2 separate regions of the Homo sapiens genome follow, and region 2 is linked to region 1. The links come from fine-mapping of genetic effects on gene expression. Tissue or cell type: sigmoid colon. Region 1 holds a variant in brackets; the other region holds the start of a gene. All regions are shown on one strand. Distances are between the middles of the regions.

Region 1 (2,687 bases):
GCAAAATGGATTAAAAAAATAAGGCCCAACCATATTCTGTCTTCAAGAGACCCATCTCACATGTAAGAACACCCACAGGCTCAAAGTAAAGGGATGGAGAAAGATCTATCATGCAAATGGAAAACAAAAGGAAAGCAGGGGTCACTATTCTTATATCAGATAAAACAGACTTTAAACCAACAATGATCTAAAAGGACAAAGTAGGGCATTACACAGTGACAAAGGGAAAAATTCAAAAAGAAGAGTTAACTATCTTAAATATACACACAGCTAACATTGGAGCACCCGGATTCATAAAACAAGTTCTTCTGGACCTATGAAAAGACTTAGTCACACAATAATATTGGGAGCCTTCAACACCCAACTGGCAGGATTAGAGAGATCATCAAAGCGAAAAATTAATTAATAAAGAAATTCTGGTCTTAAATTCAACACTTGACCAATTGGACTCAATAAATATCTACAGACTAGTCCACTCCAAAACCATAGGATATACAGTCTTCTTATCTGCACATGGAATATACTCTAAGATCGACTATATGCTCAGCCATAAAGCAAATCTGAAAAAGATTAAAAACACTGAAATCATCTCAAGCATACTCTCAGACCACAGTACAATAAAAACAGAAATTACTACCAAGAAGATCTCCCAAAACTACACAATTACTTGGAAATTAAACAACTTGCTCCTAAATGACTTTTGGGTAAACAAATGAATTCAGAAATCAAAAAAATTCTTTGAAATTAATGAAAACAGAGACAAAACAAATCAAAATCTTTGGGATGCAGCTAAAGCAGTGCTAAGAGTATAGTTTATAGTGCTAAATGCCTACATCAAAGAAGTTAGGAAGATCTTAAATGAACAACCTGATGTCTCACCTAGAGAAACTAGAAAAAAAGAACGAATCAATCCCAAACTAGCAGAAGAAAACAAATAACCAAAATCAGAGCAGAACTGAATGAAATTAAGATGGAAAAATGCATACGAAAGATCAACAAACAATTTTTTTTTTTTTGAGATGGAGTCTCGCTCTGTCTCCCAGGCTGGAGTGCAGTGACACAATCTCAGCTCACTGCAACCTCTGCCTCTTGGGTTCAAGCAATTCTCCTGTCTCAGCTTCCCAAGTAGCTGGGACTGCAGGTGCATGCCATCACACCTGGCTAATTTTTGTATTTTTAGTAGAGACGGGGTTTCGCCATATTGATCAGGCTGGTCTCGAACTCCTGACCTCAGGTGATCCACCCGCCTCGGC[C/T]TCCCAAAGTGCTGGGATCACAGGCATGAGCCACCGCGCCTGGTCTGTTTTTTGAAAGAATAAACAAAATTGATAGACTGCTAGCTAAACAACAAAAAAAGGAAAATCTAAGCCCAATCAGAAATGACAAAGATGACATTACAACTAATCCCACAGAAATATAAAAGATCTTCAGAGATTATTATAAATATCTATGCACACGAAAAATAGAAAATCTAGAGGAAATGAGTAAATTCCTGAAAACTCCCAAGATTCAACCAGGAAGAAATTCCTGTTCAAGAAAACCTGAACAGACCAATAATGAATTCCAAAAGTGAATCAGTAATAAAAATCCTACCAACCAAAAAAAGCCCTGGACCAGACGGATTCACAGCTAAAGTCTACCACATGTACAAAGAAGAACTGCTACCAATCCTACTGAAACCATTCCAAAAAATTCAAGGAGGAGGGACTCCTCTCTAACTCATTCTATGAAGCCATTATCAACTTGATACCAAAATCTGACAGAGACACAATGAAAAAAAAGTTCAAGCCAATATCCCCGATGAACATAGAGGCAAAAAAAAAAAAAAATCCTCAACAAAATACTAGCAAAACAAATGTAACAACACATCAAAAAGATAATGCACTATGACCAAGTGGGATTTATCCCCAGAATGCAAGTATAATTTGACATATGCAAATCAATAAATGTGATATATCAACAGAATGAATGACAAAAACCATATGAGAATCTTAATAGATGTGGAAGAAGCATTTGATAAAATTCAACATGCTTTCATGATAAAAAAAAAAAACTCTAAACAAATGAGGCATAGAAGGAACATATCTAAACACAATAAAGACGATATATGACAAACACACAGCTAAGATCATACTGAATGGGGAAAAGCTCAAAGCCTTTCTTCTAAGAACTGGAAAACAGGTCAAGAATGCCCACTTTTACCACTCTTATTCAGTATAATGTTGGATGTCCTAGCCATTGCAATTAGTCAAGAGAAAGAAATAAGGGGCATCCAAATTGGAAAAAAAGGAAATTAAATTGTCCTTCTTTGCATGTAACATGACTATATATTCATATATTCATATATATATGTATATATATATATATCCCCCAAAACTAATGACTCTACCAAAACACTCTAAGAACTAATAAACTAATTCAGTACAGTTGCAGGATACAAAGTCGACATACAAAAATCAGTGATATTTCTAGACTCCAATAACAAACTAGCTGAAAGGAAATAAAGAAGGTGATCTTATTTACAATAGCTATTAAAAAAAAAAAACACCTAGGATAAATTTAACCAAAAAAGTAAAAGACTTCTATGAGGAAAACTATAAAACACTGATGAAAGAAACGAAGAGGACAGAAACAAATGGAAATAATCCTATGCTAATGAATTGGAAAATGGAATACTATGCAGCCATAAA
Region 2 (2,687 bases), 590 kb after region 1:
TATTTGAGCAGTTGAAATAAAAATATAATGATAAAACCAAATGCTAGCAAGGATGCAGAGAAACCAAATTTCTCATCCCTTGCTTGTGAGAATATAACATGATACACACAGCCACTCCCAAAAATAGATTGACAGTTTCTCAAAAAACATGCACTTACCATATTACTCAACAATCACATTCCTGGGCTTTTATCAGAGAAATTATAATTTAAGTTTGCACAAAAAGCTACACACAAATGCTCATAACTGCTCTATTCGTCATGTTTTTATTGGCAGGTAATTTACATACAAAGAAATTCAAAAATCTTAAATTTCACAATTCAATGTGTTTTGTCAAATGCCTGCACTCCTGTCCCTCCCCCACTGTAAGATTTACAACACTCTAGCACCCCCAAAAAGTTATTTCATGCCCCCTTCAGCTAACCTCTACCATGCCACTCCATCCATAAACCCCAAAGCAACTATTAAAAAAAAAAAAAAAAGGCAAAAACCGCAATTACTTTTGCACCAACCTAATACTAGTCTGATTTTTAAATCACAGATTCATTTTCATATAAATGGAATCATACAATGTTTATTCTTTCATACCTGACTTCTTTCATTCAGGAACACGATTCAGAGCTTCTGCTGTGCAGTAGGGGACATCAATAGTTCATTTTCTTTTTATTGTCTGCTAACATTCCATTGTATGGATTCAACCTAGTCTGTTTATTCATTCTTCTTACTGATGAAGTTTTTTTCTCACGGCTTAAGTCCAAGGTGTGTCTTTTTCGTCCAGCCAGGTGGCCCCGGCAGGTCGCTCCTCAGGGACCCACATGGGTCAGGGCGGTGCAGCAGTGACCCACAGGGGCCAGTGCAGTTGAAGTGGCTTTGAAACCTGATTGGAGAAACAGACTGCTCAGCTGTTAAGAACACACAGCGCTCCAGAAAACTGGTGTTCAACACAACGCGTCACTCCGGCTTCCACTGCTGCTGCGGAGAGTCAGGTTCTCCGGCAAGGCCCCGCGCGCCCGCCCCCGCGCGCCCGCTTCTCTGTCCAGGGAACGCCTTTCTGCGGGCGGAGGCGGCTACGAGGGGGCGCTGCGAAAGCGGATTTCCAGGCACGCCTGGCGCCACTAAGCGGCGCTGAGACGGCGCTGCCTCCTGACTGCCGGTTGGAGGCTACAGGGGCTCTGGGGCAAGGGCCGCTTTTAGGAGTTTGCTGGTCACGAGGGGGGACGCGACCTCGTCCAAGATCTGTCTGCAAGGGACCCTTCCCAGCCGATGTGAACACAGCCCGGGGAAAGGGGTCTTCCGGGGAGCAAAGGCAGCCCGGGAAGAGGAGTAGGGGCTGAAACCAAAGGCAGCCTGGGTACCCAGGTTTTCCCAGGGGACAAGTCCCCCAGTTAGCTGGGCACAGGGAGGCATGGAGAGCGGCAGCAACTGCGTTGGGATGGGGCGGCTGCCCCAGGTTGGGGCGGTGACCCATGTTCCACCAGGCCAGGCGCAGGGCTGAGGTGGCTGACTCCTGTTTCACAAGTGAAGACCTGGTCACCCCAGCAGCAAGGCATTCCGGAGTGGGAGAATTCCTGAGTCCTGGGGAGGAAGCCGTGGTTACAGGGCTGTGGCCCTGAGCAGGAGCTGGCTGGCCCAGCAGGGTGGGCCGAGCACTTCAGTCAAGGCTGAGCGCCAGGCACCAGGGACTCAGGTCTGAGAGACCTGATGTACATCCTGCTCCAGAGCAGATCACAGAGATGCGCCCGCATGAATCCCCAGGCTAAGCCCAGAATTCCGTGGAAGATGCCCATGGGCCAGGAACACGGGTAGTCACCGCGCTAGGGCATCACACAGGGCCCCCCTTGGCCAAATACCACGAGGGAACTTAGACACCTGCATGGGGCCATGGAAGTGCCTGCAACCTCACACTCAGGCCTAGGGCTTACCGAGGTATTGCAGATATTTGTGTTCTCAGAGTAGGAGCTTAGGAATCAGTATCTTCTCTTCGCTACAGGGACAGAGATGCAGTGGCCTAGGACACATCACAAATATTTAAAACGATGTCCTTGGTCAAGGACAGAGGTAGCCAAGGCCAGCCTTCTCCCAGGAAACTAACCCAGGACCCCAAAGCACAGAGCTGTTAGGTGGGAGGGAATTGGTCTGTATGTCTCCCTATAGTGTTGCAACACTTCGGCGCTGGGCTCCCTGTCCCAGACTCACCTTCTATACTCAAGCCAGAGGCCTACGAAAGCCGGGTTAAGATCTTCCCCTGCCTGTCCCTGTAAAGCTTCCCCACTGTCTCTGGAAATCATTTGAGCTTCTTAGCCCCACAGCATGAGCCCGCTCTGACTCAGGCCCTGACAAGCTCTTTCTCTTCTGTCTCTCCCTCCTCTGTTGATATGGACACACCATTCCTTTGGCATGTCTAGTACAGACCAGATCCCCTGCTGTTGTTAGCATTCCTCCCTCTCCCTGGAATGTTCTTCCTTATCTGTCTACCTGATAAGCACTGAGTCATCCTGCAAAACTCTGCACAGCTTTCACCTTCCCTGAGGAGCCTCCCCTGGCCAGCCCCACCCTGTTGCAGGCAGAATGCTTGGCGGTGGGTTGCTGACCACAAATCCATTCCCCCTTTATTCCTTGCCAAGGGAATGCTGATTTTGCTCAGGTTGTCAACCCTCAGGGAGGTGACCCTAAACATGCCAAGTCCA

Evidence for each region. PIP is the estimated chance that this variant, and not a neighbour inherited with it, causes the effect.
Region 2: LINC00842 starts here. The variant in region 1 is fine-mapped to the expression of LINC00842 in sigmoid colon (GTEx, PIP above 0.99).

What each region holds. Positions count from the first base shown.
Region 1 is chr10:46,988,702-46,991,388 of GRCh38, reverse strand. All of the region lies in intron 9 of PTPN20 (protein tyrosine phosphatase non-receptor type 20), which reads right to left. Among named protein-coding and RNA genes, the nearest start is that of PTPN20, 79 kb to the right of the region's middle. The variant C/T (reference allele first, on the strand shown) is at 1,254.
Region 2 is chr10:46,396,695-46,399,381 of GRCh38, reverse strand. It overlaps LINC00842 (long intergenic non-protein coding RNA 842), which reads right to left and starts at 1,020. Exons shown (of 4, transcript NR_033957.2): 1 at 589-1,020. RefSeq lists an enhancer at 2,145-2,687.